Linked DNA regions of Homo sapiens: region 2 is linked to region 1. The links come from fine-mapping of genetic effects on gene expression. A gene starts in region 1. The other region holds a variant in brackets. All regions are shown on one strand. Distances are between the middles of the regions. Region 1 holds the start of ARHGAP15 (Rho GTPase activating protein 15). Region 2 overlaps ARHGAP15 (Rho GTPase activating protein 15).

What was found.
Region 2: its variant is fine-mapped to the expression of ARHGAP15 in whole blood (TOPMed, PIP 0.93).

The regions. Positions count from the first base shown.
Region 1 is chr2:143,125,582-143,133,933 of GRCh38, reverse strand. It overlaps ARHGAP15 (Rho GTPase activating protein 15), which reads right to left and starts at 4,515. Exons shown (of 14, transcript NM_018460.4): 1 at 4,468-4,515.
Region 2 is chr2:143,248,387-143,256,738 of GRCh38, reverse strand. ARHGAP15 (Rho GTPase activating protein 15) reads right to left here. Exons shown (of 14, transcript NM_018460.4): 6 at 6,139-6,228. Among named protein-coding and RNA genes, the nearest start is that of ARHGAP15, 120 kb to the right of the region's middle. The variant A/T (reference allele first, on the strand shown) is at 3,058.

The DNA.
Region 1 (8,352 bases):
TAATCTATATTTCTAAAAGAAAAAAAGCAAAGTGGAGAGGTGCGTGCAGTTATGTTATATACATACACACATAGATGTGCATATATATATGGTTTTTACATAAACTGTGAAGTATAAATATATATATTAAACATGAAAAGTGGTTACGTTGGATTAAGATGGGGATAAATGGGATAGATAGAAATAAAAATATAAGAAATAGCTTATCTAAAAACATTGTGTTTTGGTTTTATATTGATTTTGAACCATCTCACTATATCATCTATTCTTAAATTAAAAGCAAACAAAACAAACAAAAGGCCTTCATCAAATGAAAAAAAAGATTGTTATAACCATAACTTGAATAAGAACCTCAGGCACCTGAACAGGTAAGTCAGTGCCTGTCCTTACAGAAATATCTCCACTGACTTCAAACTCTTCTGCAAAGAAAATGTCACTTCACAGTGAGATAAATGGAAGAAACAAATACATCCTGACCCTAGACAGACAACCCATCAAGATGTAAAAGTGTGGACATCCAATTACGTATCTCCCCTGCTCAAAAACCCTGCTGTTACTTATATCCAGGTCTACTCTATTTATGATCTCACACTATCTTTCTGGCCTACCTCTTATTACTATACTTCTGTCTAACAAAACTGGAGAATTCACACTACTTTGGAATTCTCTGACACGCCGTGTTTTTGTGCCTTGACATATTTCCTTCCTGTCCCTTGCAATGTTTCTCATCTTCCCAGTGCTAGATTTCCCTGAAAACTACCACAAAACTTTCCTCCAAAACTGTCCAGAACTCCCTGAAAGTATGTGATCAGATGATACAACACTTACAAAATTCTCTAGTTTATGGCTCGGCAAATAACAGGAATGCAAAAATGCTGGATGAATTTCTGAACTCTAATAGAGCATTCTCTGTATCTTCTTATGGTACTTGACAAATTGTATTTGCATCATAATTATTAAAATAATAGTCACTCTGGATTATAAGCTTTTAGAAGGCAAATGTTGTGAGGAGTTGTCAAACATACAGTAGCTGTTGAAAAATATTTTAAAATTTAGTTTAATTCAAACTCATGTTTCAATCAGATCCGCCTTTCAATTAAAACTGTATTTTTGTACAATTATGGAATTTGAAGAAGTTGGGAAATAATGACTGTTTAAAATGTGACCATACGTGACTCCGTAGTAGAATTTTGAGGCTTTTGTCCTTTCTTCTGGGGAAAGCATTTTAATTTCTACATCAGGAGACCCCTCTTTTTAGCAGAGAGCCCAAGTGCTGCAGCTGTAGCTGCCCCCAGTGCAGGAGTGGGCCTGTGAGCTAGGCATGGTCACGCATGCTGTCTGCACCCAAGTTCAGTAATTGTTCAGCTATGGTCATGTGATCCAATTCAGTCCCATCAGATCTAAATCTGACACTTTGCTGTGGTGACTGGGGAAAAGCATTCTTTCCCCACAGTTTGCTGAAAGGATCAACTCAGTAGGAGCTTGACAATTTCGTGAGAGCTTCCACTAGAGACTGCTTACAGCATAGTGAAAAGAAGAGCTGAGGAATGAAAAAAATGAGACCTACTCCTGATAATCCTGTGTGAGCTCCTGGATCCAGCCATTCCTGACTTTGCTATCCTTAGACTTTTCACACATAAAAGAATATCTCTTTTGCCTAGGCTAGTTTGAACTCATTTTCTATCGTTTGCCAACAAAGAAGTTTTGCACACTCTAAGCTCAAATTTAGAATACTTACAAGGGCATTTTAAAGTCTAATTATGTAGCATTTATTGTACAGTGTAAAAAATATGCTTTTAGTATCCAAAGAATTAAATTCAGAGTGTTCAATGACTTTTAAAATACATCTATTAAAAACTAATTATGTTAAATAATTTCTAAGTGTATGGGAATATCAAAATTGCCTGAAAATGTAGTGCAATATTTTTTTTTTTTTACCTGCTGCAAGAAAGGTGTTTATTTCTTCAGGACTATCTTAAAGAAATGGATACATCACTGGGATGGATCCTTCATATGAGACACTTCCAGAAATTCTGTGTTTAAATGCCACAGGCAGGACCAATGGTTAACAAAACACTCTCCCTCTAAAGTCTTCCCCCAACCATTTACCATGGCATCAGTCTCCTCACTTGAGATCCAACATTTAGCTAATCCTTTGGGCCCTGTCTGCTGAGGAAACATATTAAAATTCCACTGGGGGGAGAAAGGGAGGCCTGGCTAGGAAGTCAAAGCTCTGTAGCCTTCTCCTATAAGCGTGGATTATTTTTATTAGATTCCCTAAGTGCTGGAAAATGGGATGAGTACATTTTAAAAGTTCAGTTGAATGGAAGGAGCCAGTGAATGGAAGGGTCTATCTTTCTAGGTACCAAGTCTATGGGACTCTAAATTAGGAGCAGAGCAGGCCGCTCCAGAAGAGAATAATAAAAAGGAGCAACAGGAGGAATATCAAGGAAAGAGTTTCTCCTTTCTGAATCTTACTGAATGCTGGCCCTAAGTGGAAAAGCACGACATTCTTTGAGCAAATTAGCTTTAATATGACTTTCCAAATAAAATCTTCCGTATTATTTTCATTTCATCAAAACTTGTTTCTGACTCATCCACTTAAAACATATAAAGTAATAGAATTCTATAGTAACTTATTTGCAATTAACTGTCTTAAAATTTGGTTTGTACCTTACTGCTCTTTACAAACAATTCTGAAGGTATTTTAATTTACCTATCATCTTTACTCATTGATCTTTCTAAATTCATATCAAGCTCTCTTCAATTCATTCTTAATTTTACACATATTCCATAAAATATGTGTATTTTAATTTAACAGTTTCTGCAAGAAACACTCATTTTTACAGTGAATTTCTTTTTTAAAAGCATTAAACAATTTAAAAAATTTTCATGGACTTTTCCTCAATGCCAGATGTTTATCTGCATATTCATTCTTGCTAAGGTGTAAGTATTGCATGTGTTTATTCATTTGATATTCTTTTATAATAAAATGAAAGAAAGTAATAACATATCAACCAAAATTATCAGAATTATACAGCTTCTATAGATGCAGAGGTTCAGAACCACGATATTGAAGACAGATTTAAATAATGCTTTCCATTGTGAGGAAATGCAACAAATTGAAAATCTAATCACAATATCAAAGCAAATATATATTACCAGGGTCTTCTTACATGCTAACAATAAAAAATGTATTGAACACCAAGTCCTAATCTCTATTTTTCTGTGATCATTTTAATAGTCAACAAGTAGCTAGCTTCAGTATTGACAATTGAAGAGGTCTTAAAATGGAGTGTACTACTATGCCTAATAATTTCCTACTAAATTGACCATGTCAAAAAACATTTATGTGTGTCTTTCAATAGAAGACAATAAAAGAAAAGAAAATTGTTGCCACTTATCAACCCTGTAACCATTTTTTAATAACACAAAAAATAGGTGTTGTGGGGGCCATCACTTCTCCCATCCAGCAGCACAATAAAAATAATATTAGGGAAGAATGGATCATATCTTGGGCTGTTATTAAAATTCTTTCAAAAATCTACAGTCAGATTTATTTTAGGTATTTGTCTCTGAGATTAGCAATATTTTGATGTTTTCTGCACATATGTTACAGCACACAAAGACATTCTGTAAAAGCAAGAAGTCAATATAAAAGAAAATTACATGTCAGTTTAGGACTAACAAATCCTTTTCATTTCTAAGGTTTATTATTTTGGAATATTTCAAAGAAGGAAAATTATATAATTACATAAATAACAAAAGTATACCTCTAATTTGCCTCTCCTCTCAGAGTAACCTTCAATGAAATCAGCTGTGACTTCTTTTTTAAATATAAAAGTTTGCTTATGAATTAGAAACTTACACTCATTTCACCCTATATCTTAAATGAAATTTAGAAAAAAAATTTCAAGTGTCATGATAGACAGTATTCCTTTACATTTTAAAAGCTCCTTGCTTTTTAATTAGCTACATAGTAACCTTTTTAAGGGTTTTTAGTGCTAACATTAATACAATGCTTTAAAGTGAGTATCTTTCACACTGAAATTCAAGCTATTTCTCATTGTTATACCCTTTTCTCTTTCCTTATCTGGATGTTGAACAATACATATTTTTATAAAACAGTTGGTTAAAGGTGCAAAGTCTCACATTATTTCTAGTAGTTATTTTTAAATGCACTTCAAACTAAAACTTTATAACTTATTCTGTCTTTAACATTTTAGTACAAAATCTTAGCAAATCATCTTATTATTATAACATTTTAGTAAAAGACATTGGAATTTGACAGCTGCAAATATGAAAAGAACATTCTTTTCTACATCAAAGGAAACCAGCCAATGTTTTAATCACAGGTAAAAGCGTCATATTTTGTAGAAATGTTTATATGTTCACACCAAAATGTAGGAAACTCTGCCGAACATGTTCAAGTTTAAATTTCATGTACAATATAAAGTTAAAACTTACCTTTTCTCGGCAATGACCTGTTATTGAAACTGCCATCAACTCCTAACTGTTAATGACTCTTTCAACAAAAACGGAAAACAGTAAAGTCACATGTCGTAAGAGTAGGCCTGTGTTGGATGCTGCTTAATTTCAGTACTGGGGGAAGAAAAAGGCGGGGGGTGGGGTGAGCACAAAACTTTTAAATAAAACCACTTCCTGGGTAGAGACAGTTAACCACACACATCACATCATTACTCAATTTGAAGAAATTGCCTTGTATAGTCAACAATATTGTTATTTTTCAATGTTATTATCAATTGTCAAACAAGACACATGTATAGAGATTTTATCAATTTTAACTTAAGGGAGGAAAATGTGTGATTAAAAATTCATCAGTGGGAGGAGCAGACTGCTAAGCACTGAAGAAACTTCCTCTTTCTCTGCCTTCTAGCAAGGGCTGAAAAATGAAGCGTCTACTCTGCTGGCTACGCTTGAGATGCTCCCATGCTATCAGGACACTCTGCATATTGACTTTGGAAGCAAGGAAGCCACCTCCAATTCACAGAGCTGGTGCCTCTGCCTCATTCATGAAAGGACCCACCAAAACCTGATCCAGTTAACAGGTTCATCAGGCCTTGGGAGGGTTGCATTAGAACTTCAGAAAACACAGCCCAGAGCCACGCCGCCATCTGAGCATCTGGGGAAAAGGCAGGTGTTCATCATGCTCGTCGAACACACCCTGTGGCATTTGCTGTGACTGTGGCTCTCATACGGATGTGTCCACTCTGGCAATTTCCTAAGCAGTTCTGAAACCTGCTGAAGAGCTTTTGCTCTAGCTGAGTGATTCTTTGTGTGGTCTGACTTAAAAAGAAAAAAAATATATATTATAATAAAGGATCCAAACAATATCATTTTGGCATGCTGCTGAATGCCCTCTTGTGTCAAACTTCAACAAACCCAAGACATATTTGTAAGGGGTCTCAGAAATAACTCTAGGATGTGCATCTTTATTGAGCCATGGAGTTCAAGAATAAGCTCCTGGATTTTCAGGCTTGGCTGGTTTTGTGAGATTTGCAGCTTAATCATAAAAGGAAGAGAGGAAAAGCTTTCCTTCCAAATATATGAGAGAGTTAAATCACAATCTCTTGTCATACAAACCAATTAGACTAGAAATCTGTGTAATAGAGCTCAGTGGTATAGAATGTTTGGCATACTAAAAGTCAATCTTTAAAAATAGATTTGGTGGATATGGCCCAAGTTAGGGATGGCATGTCCCTATCAGTTAACTGAATTTCTCTGGGATCTTTTTCTAAAAATCACATTTCAGATTGACCCTAGAATTCACTGTCAGTTCTCATTTCAGGAAGGACCTTTTTAAGTGTTTAGAGTCCTGAAGATTTGTACTGAATGCTTCTCCTTAACACCGAAGAGAAAATGGAAAGTTCATAATATTAAAAGTGAGGAAAGCAGAATTCCGGGCTTAATTCTGACACTGCTATTCACTTAACCTTGGCCAAGTTACTTAAGTTCTCTGAAATTTAGTTCATTTATCCATGTAATGAAACATCCGCATAAAAAAATCCATCTTGGGGAACACGATAAGTAAATAGATGTATATATTTTGTATATCATAAGGAATTGTAGATATATAAATTAGCATGAGCTGGGAAATGTTGATAACTCCTAAGAAGCATCAGAGAACTTCAGTACATTCTGCTTGATTTAAGCCTTTGTAAATCTGAGTTAGACTCAGAAGTCTAGGACAAGGAAAATAAATTAGGCCTTTCCTTGTTTTTGTTTGCTTGTTTTTACGGAGTCTCGCTCTGTTGCCAGACTGGAGTGCAGTGGCGCGATCTCAGCTCACTGCAAACTCTGCCTCCCGGGTTCAAGGGATTCTCCTGCCTCAGCTTCCCGAATTGCTGAGATTACAGGCATGCACCACCATGCCCAGCTAATTTATGTATTTTTAGTAGAGACGAGGTTTCACCATGTTGGCCAGGATGGTCTCTATCTCTTGACCTCATGAGCCGCCCGCCTCGGCCTCCCAAAGTGCTGGGATTACAGGCGTGAGCCACCACTCCCGGCCATGCCTTTCCTTTTAAATAGATACTAACATCAGGCATCTGACTAGGAAAAATATAAAATAACAATATACCCTTATGGTAATAAATAAATGTAAATACCTGCTTAAGGGTGACACAATATTTGTTGGCATCAACAATTAGTTAATGGAGACAAGTGCCCCTTTTCTTTGTATAAGGTGGAAGGTGAGCCCCTTAGGCAGTGTGATATGCCTGGGTTTGATTTCTTTTTTCTTTTCTTTTCTTTCTTTCTTTTTTTTTTTTTTTTTGAGACAGAGTCTCGTTCTATTGCCCAGGCTGGAGTGCAGTGGCATGATCTCGGCTCACTGCAACCTCCGCCTCCAGGTTCAAGTGATTCCCAGGTTCAAGTGCCTCAGCCTCCCGAGTAGCTGGGATTACAGGCGTGCACCACCACACCCAGCTAATTTTTTATTTTTTTTAGTAGAGACGGGGTTTCACCATGTTGGCCAGGATGGTTGTTAACTCCTGACCTCAGGTGATCCGCCCGCCTCGGCCTCCCAAAGTGCTGGGATTACAGGCGTGAGCCACTGTGCCCGGCCCTGGATTTGATTTCTAAAAGGAGAGGTACTTACTATGATTAAGGCTACAGGTCAGTGCCTTGACACTTGTGGCTTGATATGCTCACTGTTTTTAGTAGCTAAGATTTTTTGAATGTTTGCCATAATCCAAGCATTGTACCAAGCACTTTACATTCATTCTGCCTTTTAATCCTCACAACAAATTTGTGAGCTAGCCAATATTATTGTATTATTTTTACATATGAGGAAACTGAGGTTACTTTGTTGCCCAAACTAGTAAGGAGTAGAGCCAGGAGTCAAACGCAGATGCTCTGACCTCAGAGCCCTTTTTCTCAATTACTGTGCTAGCTCCTAACCACTTGGCATGCAGCACAACTCTAAGCCAATAGTGCTCAGGAAAAATTTTACTTCTGGTATTCCTTTTGCCTTTTCACTGACTGGAATGATCAACTTAGAAGGTAGGAATCATTTCTAGGAATCATAAAATCAAGTCTCCAGAAAGTTCTCTAAATTTTAAATCTATATCAAAGAAATTAAAAGAAGATCAGGATAAACAGAAATGTACTATGTTCACAGATTTTTAAAAAAAGTGGAAATGCATCAATCTACCTAAATTATTCTACAAATAGATTCAATAAAATCATAATTATAATTCCAACTGGACTTTTTGAAGAATGCAATGAGCTCCTTCCAGAATTTCCTAGAAGAACAAATGTCCAAGAATACCTAAGCTCATTTTGAAACAAACAAAAAATCAAGGACTGTTGATTTTCTATGTTAGATTGACATGGTCCAAATCACAGAATTAAAAACATTTCAATGCTGGGCCAAGGAGCAGCTCAGAAAATCAGCGTATTTATTTGGGAACTTGACATATGACAAAGATAGCATCATAGATAAACAAAAAGGAACAGATCTGTTTCATCAGATAATATTGGTGAGACATACTTACTAAATAGAGGATAATAGATTTGGGCTTCTACATTAGACACAGGGAAAGATGGACCTCACATGGATAAAACCACAGTTGAAAGGTCAAACCACGCTGTTGACACAGTAACAGGAAGGAAAATATTTTTGCAAAATGGAACTTTCTTAAACAGTGTCCCTACATTAAAAAGAAAAAGAGCAAAAATATGTGTATTTCACTATACATTATATATTTCTGCTAAAGAAATACATAGACAAATATTATAGAAAAATAAGAGACTAGTAGAAAATATCTAGCTTTACAAAATATTTATACAGACCAATAGGAAAACGATAAGCATCCCAATTGGAGAATA
Region 2 (8,352 bases), 120 kb before region 1:
AAATCTGTGTGACCGCATCAACAAAAGTGAAGCTAAACATCATACAAATAATCATATCTCTTTCCCTTCAATCAGAAAAACAGTATTGTACTGATACCTCAGTAGGGGAGTAATAAGTGTCACTATTGTCCCTCTTTCACTTGGGGCATAGTTGCTACACTTGTTTCTATGTTACCTTTTGCAAGTTTCTATTAACAGCTTGGTAGGGCTTTCAAGGTGATATGCTTTTAAGTATTAATTTGAATATGTCATTGATTAATTAATTGGATATTACATTAATGCCACTAAGAATAGCACATTAAAAATAAGATTAAGGATCTATATTCTTAGTCACACAATAAAAAGATTTTCATGTTGTGTATTAAATATCAGTCTATTAAGTTCAGAAGGCAACAGAAAGACCAGAAGTAGAGCAGAAATTTTGAGTTACATTTCACAGATATTTACCTCTCTCAACCCTATTCTTCTAAAATTCATATCTGGAATTTCCCTCAAAACATTGTGAGATGATGTGGTTAGTAGATGAATAATGAAAGTCTGCTGTATTTGTATTAAAATCACTTCTTTGTAGTTGCTCTCAAACAAACATACAGGATTGCTTCATTTTAGTATTAACACAGATGGGCAGGTGAGGTGAGGACTGTCATCTCTTATTTCCTTGGTGTGACAAAGTTGGAGGAGGATCCTGCTGTGAGTTCTGCATAAAGTTACAACTGACATAGCCCAAATTGGAACACACATCCCCAGACCCATGTGTTCTCTCCACTGCACCTCCTGAATGTTGGATGAATATCTAATAGGTAGATGAAATGATTGGGGACAAGCTGTAGGGCAAAAAACAACTGTGTTAGACGTGAATGTTTCTCTTACTCTGGTCTATTTTTAATGCCGTGTCTTTTAAGATACTTTAATTCTCTAAAGTGAAACCAGCTTTACTGGAAATCTAATGCATGTATGAATGTGAAGAATCATCCTTTTGCATTTAGTCTAACTACAAGCACTGAAAAATGAAAGAAAATTGGTAAAAGCTCGGATTTATTTTAAACCACCACTTGTAACACAAGGAAATGGATAAAAGCACAATACCAGTAGTTTTCCTTTTGGCTTAAAATTATGTTTTTTTAAGATGTTATTAAATTATCTTCACATTAATAAACTTAAGTAGTACTTAAACATTTTAAGATAAGACATATTCAGATCAGAAAGATCAAATTATGTTTAAATGTAATGCATATCCATGGAGAATATTACATAAAAAAGTTTAATATACATTGTAGTCAGAAGACTCCATCCAAAGTCAGAGAAGTAATATAAATAATAAATCTATTCCGAGGTTTACTTTTAGGGACAGAATCTGTCCCCCGAGATCTATTTTTTAATATATTGAAAAAGAATCTTGAAAAATAATCTCAAATCCAGGAAATGTGACCATGATATTTGTTGAGGTTACAAATTGGTGGTGGCGGGGGGAGGATAACAGACTTTCCTCTTCTTTAGTCATTTAATTTTTTCTGCCTTTCAAGCAGCAAACAGGTAATTGACATATTCCTAATCAGCCATGATTTATTAATTGGCAGAAATATCCTACTGAAAGCATGAAATCTATAGAAGAGCCCAATGTATGTTTTTAAAAACTTTATTTTAAAGGAAGCTCAGGAAAACTGAGGCCAGTCACTGTCTGGCTCTAAGAAAAGGTAAATTTTTAGAGTAAAAATGATTTAATTATCTTAAATAAATAATGCTGTCTTATAACCTGTAATGAAAAAGACCCAGGAAACAGTTATCTTCTTCATCTTTACTTCCTATTTTACACCCTGGAAATTTTGGAGTACAGGGCCTATATTGTGGATACAAATAACTTTTTTTTTTTTAATAGGAGTGAATTTGTTTTGTTTTATTAAAGGAATGCAACTGTACCCTTAGCAGTAACAATTATTCAGCTAAAAAGTGTTCAGTCTTCTGGCTTAATAAGTAGAAGACAGTATGGGATATAGTTTCTATGTATTTTCTTTGGGGAGACAAGACTAATTTGCATGACAGAATATTTAAGTAAAGGATATTTAAGTACTAAATTTAATGACACGGAAATAATTATAGTGCTCTGAGACTCTCACATATTTAATAAGGGGGTATCTCCTTGGACATTGGGGAATTTTTTAGAGATACATCAGTTGTCTATTTGATAGCCATGTCACGAACTTCCTTTCCCTAGGCTTTCCAAAATATTTAACTCAGAAAGGTTTGTGTTCAAAGGAAAAGACAAAACCTAACTGAAAAATTTCCTTCAACTTAGAAACAAGATATAAGAGTTTTTTTTTTTTTTAAACAAACTTGTTCTAAATTATTTTGCAGCCATTTTCTCAGTTGAACTTCTTATTGAAAGACTGTAACTGCCTAACATGCCCAGCCAGGAAACAGAAGGTGACAGTAGCCCCGCTTGTGTGAGGGAGGCTGCCTGACAATGCTGCCATCCTTTCACATGGTTTTATTTAGTTATTACAACTATCTCTCTGTAAATGACATTTAGGATTATTTAAGATTATGTTGTAATCCTTTTAATCCTTAGTGCTTTAAATTTCAGGCTAAACACCAAAGAGCAAACTAGCACTTAGCAGGAATGTTTAAAACATGTGGTTTGAACATAAATCTTTTTATTCACTCTATCCCTGATGAAGACCTAGTGTTGCTGTTAACTAAGAAAACGCGTACCCAGCTCGTTATAGCTGAGTTGCTAAAGGTTTCTCGAACTACATCAAACTTGTGACAGTCCTTGACAATGAACATAAATGCAGAATTAAACAAAAGTTAGCAGCAATGGACATTTACCACTTTAACTTAGAATTTGTATGATCTTTTATAAATGTGTACTATCTTTCTGTGTTTGTGTGTGGAAGTGCTTACTCTATTTCCTAAGGTCAAGCTATTAGGTGTGTATACACACAGGTAGAGTATATATACATATGTATATTTGCATATATATTTTATGTATATAAGTATATATATTTTATACATGTATATTCATGTATATATTTTAATATAAATTATAACATCTAATAC[A/T]TACTTTATTATAGAATTCTTTTATTATTTATTGTTAAGAAGTACCAATTAGGCCAAAGAGTGTGCTGTTATAAAATATGCAGATATTCTTAAACTTAGCAAGTATCATTCTGATTTACTGAAAGTTGTTGAATACCAAAACTTAATAATTAATGTTGTCATTGTTATGTTTCCACATAGCAATCAAATAAGATTCAGTCCATGTCAACAGTTTGATAGGATTTCAACTAGGAAGGAAAATTTGGATTTCAGTACAAAGAGAAAACAACTCAAACATCCAAACAGCATATATGAACAAATGAAATAAATGAAATCTGTCCATTTTTGGTTGTCACAAATGTGTGCTTCTGAGACTTGCAACATTTCTCAGGCACATACAATTTTTTGTTTGTTTTCCTATTCATTTTAAGTTCAACTTCTCTGCAGACATTGTAATTACATGGCATACAATTGCTAATCCATCAAACTTTTTAAAGACAGATTTCAAATTTTAAAATATTTCTAATTTTGCTCTTCTTTGATTTTCCTTGAACCAAAAATCTCAATAGTCATTTGCTATCTGTAATCTATAATTCATAGACTGAGATTGAACACCAAGCCTAATTCAAACTTGGAATTCTAAAGCTATTTCCAATGTAGCACATCAGCTGAAGCTATGATGGTCTTTTTCAGTCAGGAAGAAACACTTCATTATTCTGCAGGTAATGAAACCATTGCACACATACACTCCAACGTCCAACAATGCCTTAATACCATGTTTTTAAGACATAATCATGTTTATTCTGATCATTTGAGAGTTCGACCAGCTAATGTATCTAATCAAATATTGATGCAAGTCATCTAGATTTAGCTCTCTGGCAAATCCTTCCCGACGCTTTTTTGTTAACAGAACTATAGAAGCTATTTATATTGTTCCTCTCAAAAGGCTTACTCTCATAGTCTGTATCTATGGATATGTATTAGTCAGTTTTACCAAAACTCATGCATTTAGGTGATGAAAAGATTTCAGCACGACAAGGAAACCAAGGGATTCACTCAAAAAGAATGAAACAGAACATGAAACTTGAATCTTTTCTTTTGGTTTGTTATTCACAATATCCTTATGATCACCTCTTGTTTCTCTAAAAGTACAAGACTAAAAAAAAATAAAGCGTCTGTAAGAAGACTGAGGCCCCATGAACTGTTCAATTACATTACAAACAAAACTAGCTGGCAAAATTTTCACCTTCAGAAAGCTACCAAAAGTGAGAATAGTTTTTAATATCTTTGGAAGGATCTACATTCAAAAATATAAAAATCAAATAGAAAATTGCAACAGGAGGTGATTAGTCATATCCTGAAAAGATTGGGATGATACACACTGTCAATATAGGTGGCTGAAATGTCTATCTGTGCATATAATGTTCATAGTTATATAAAAATATACATAATTTTTTCATCAATATTTTCAGCCCTGTATGCATCAAATATAGCTGACTGTCATCCTCATTTGTGAACTAATTTAACTCTTCATAAGATTAACAGAAGAAACTGAAAAAGGCTGGCTTAGCCCATCTCCAAAGAATTGCTATTGTCCAAGAATAATGTCTATGACAAATTTCAACATCTTTTACAATTTTGGTGATTAGGATGCTAAATTCACAGTACATAATAAGGCTCTACCACTGAGCTTTCCCGGTCTACTTCAGAGCTTCTTATGTTGATCATCTAAGTTGTCATAAGGCTAGAATTATAACCTCTAAACTGTTATTTATGGTAGAATAATAAGAGTAAGAAATTGGGGGAAAGGGGAAGTCACTGATCTATAGTTCCTCCCTTTGAAAGAAAGTTTATTTCTCCTTCTTGATTCTGTAAAGCCACATTTTAGTCACTTTCAGCTTTAGAGCATTGATTTCAGGACAAGCGTGTTTGGTTTTCTTCTATCTTTTCTCTCTCCCTTTTATTTCCTTCCTTCCTTTTTAAATTTTATTTTTAATTGACAAATAATAATTGCATATATTCTCTCACTTTCTTGTTTGATAAAAAATCTCTATACCTAAGCAAAATAAAACTAGAACCAGAAAAGTAATTTATTCTAGAATGTGTTAAAATATTTTATGGACCCAAATTATTTGGATATACCTGAATAGCATCTGGAAAATACAAACCGAACTGGAAACCAGCTTCTTCCCCTCAGTGAGAGTGTCGGTAGAAAATGTCACCTACCTATGCTTCCATAGGACCCAATATTAATTTCAGCAAAGCATTTAAGAGTAGAAGAATTGACTTTTATTCAAGGGCCAACATGCTCTCAGAAGACATTTAATTTAAAAAATAATTATTATACTCTATCTCTCTTCTACTAAATTATATAAATTCTAAAATATATCTAATTACTGGTTACTTTGGAAATATAAAATTAAATTTCATATAAAATAGAACAAAAATCAAACTCCAAGATCTCAAATTATTAATTACCAGATAAATCACGCAATTAGGTGATTTTGGTAACGTGTGAAATTACATTTTCCAATTTTATCTCTCTCAAGGATTTCATCTGGTTCTTGCCATTCAATCGAATATGATTGCAATTATTAATCAACTTTTTTTTTCAAAAAACTAAAGTAAGCAATATGAAAGAATCTATTTTTTATAGCTGTTCAGCCCTCTCCATTCTTGTAAGTTATACTGGTAAATGTAATTAATGACTAGAAGGCAAGAGTGTCAATGAATGTAAATAGCTTATACTTGGTGAGTCTTAGTTTGTGTGCATCTGAAAATTCTAGATCAAATCTACTTAAGTCAAACATCCCATGTTTGAACTCCAGACATCTATCGCATATACTGCAAACTTCAATGACTTTTGTGTGTTTATATTAATCAACGTGCAACATACATTTTGTGTTTAGATAGCAACCAGTCGCCAGAAAAAAAGCAACAAAACCAAAGATTCAACTGGGAAGAGGAGTCGCCTTTCATGACCTTCAGACAACGAGTTCATGTACATGAGCACATCACAAGAAGGTAGTCTTATTTTAGTTACCCAAGAGAGCTCAGATTTAGAGAGAATAGGAATAAATTGAATATATGTAACATTCTTACCTGAAAGACATTCTTTCTGCTCGATTTTTCCTTGGCCCATTCAATGTGTGCTCCACACAAATCCACACTTTCTGGTTTGTGCCCAGTTTTCTGTAATCACAAAAATGAAGTAAGAATAAGAGGATGCAACACTGTAGATAGATGTCAGAGAAATAGGAGTTTATTGAGTTAGCAGCTATACATATTTATGATATAATGCCTTTTTTGTTTTCCCCAGGGGAAACCTAATTTGTAGGAATTTTCATTTGGGACCTAATTTTTTTCAATGTCTAAAATTACAGACTTATTTTTAAAATTATTTAATTAACTATAAACCATAGGAAAAATTAATATCTAGAATACTGATATTTTGAGATGGTATTCTTTAGTAATTTAAGAATAATGAAAGTTTTAAAATCTGCTATTTAGTAATATGGAATATTGCTCTTCAATGTCTAAAGTAACATAAAAGCATGTTAAGTTATATTACTTTTAGACCTAACAGTAAAAGAAAAAATTGATAAATCATAGTGCAATGCAAAAAACTGTTACAGAGTTTTAGTTTTGCGACTATAGTAGAGTTGCTTAGAATCTGACTACATCATCTAGAAAATTGAGCAGGTGGATTAATCTCCAATTCCCCTTTCAGGTTTGTGTTTCACATGTTAGCAAATTCAATACATATTTATTAAGTGTCAACTATGCCTTTTAGAAATTCACTTTTCAGACTTTAAGACTATACACACAAATATAATTTCATTTGGTAAATTTAACTTAGACCAAAAGGATTAAAATGTGTGCTTCCTATTACACAATTACAATGTGGGTATTACTTAAAAGATGTTTTTTATTTCAATAATTCACAATAATCAATAGGAATATCACCCACATTTGTCTTTTCATATTTTCACTTGATTCAAGTTAATCATACTTATACAACTTTACATTGGCATACCTCCATACCGCCAATTATTTTTTAAAAAGTTTACCAGTTGAGAATTTCTTTACTATTTTTTCAAGAAGTTTCTCCACAGATAAATTTTCTAGGTTTCTCTGTAGATTCCATACTTTTCTCAAGTCATTGTCCATAAAATACTTCAGAATTTTAGTATATGAAGCTTATTATATTTTTAGCCAATGTTTTTAACATTATGAACATTAGGATAAAACATGAAATTATGAAAGAATGGTAAATATGTTTTAAAAACATATTCTGTCCATGTTTGTTGCCTCTTAGCCATTATATCCAATTCTATAAGTTCAACATAAATAGGCTTTTTCAGAAGCCAGAAATTTGTTTTTTTATGGTAAATTATGAGACTTTTTTCTGGCAACTGAATTTTTTTTTGAAACATTGTATAACTTTCCTACAGGATAAACCCAGCCGGCAGGATAGAATTTGATAGCATATCTACCTTTTTTGTTGTTGTTATTTAGTAACCTCAGGAGAAACCCATCAAAATGAGCCATGCTCCTTAAAGAGATTTTGATCAGTGAAAAGTTTTTATTGTTTCACCCACGCTCTGCCACCCAGGTGATCACTATTTTAGATTTCAAAGCATGATAATGATAGTCTTTGTCAAGTGATTTATGATGTAGAAAAATTAACAACAACATGCTTCTTATAGATTTAATTACATTAGGGGATACTCAGAACCAACGAAAATAATCATTAAGAGTACGTAACAAAATGGCTTATTTTTCCCATACAGTCAAGTCAGGGGGTTAAAAAGGTATAATTATTTTAAGAAGCACTTTTTATGTTCCAGGTACTTACCTACGTACAACAATTATTGATAATTCGTTTAGTGTATAACCTCTGTATCATAGAGAGTTTGTGGGCAATTATACAGAAGTCTAAGGCTAAAATGAGGAAGATTCCGTATTTTCCTTGCCTCTGGAGTTCTAGGGCCCAGCACTGTGGCTAACACATGGACACAAAATAAGTGTGCAATAAATATTAACCAAATGATTCTGTGAAATCTTACATTCACAACTGTATGAGGTAGGTATTATCATCACTAAGTTGTAGGTAAGAAAACCTGCCAGAATAGTTAGGTAAATTTCCTCAAGGTTACCCAGCTAGAAAAGGAGGGGCCAGGATTTAGATCCAAGCAGTGTCACTGCAGAGACTGTTCTTAACCATGATGCAGCCCTTAAAAATTGAATAGACACTGTGATCATATGCTAAAAACATGTAAGAATTTGGGAAAAGCTATGGCTTTCTCACTAGAC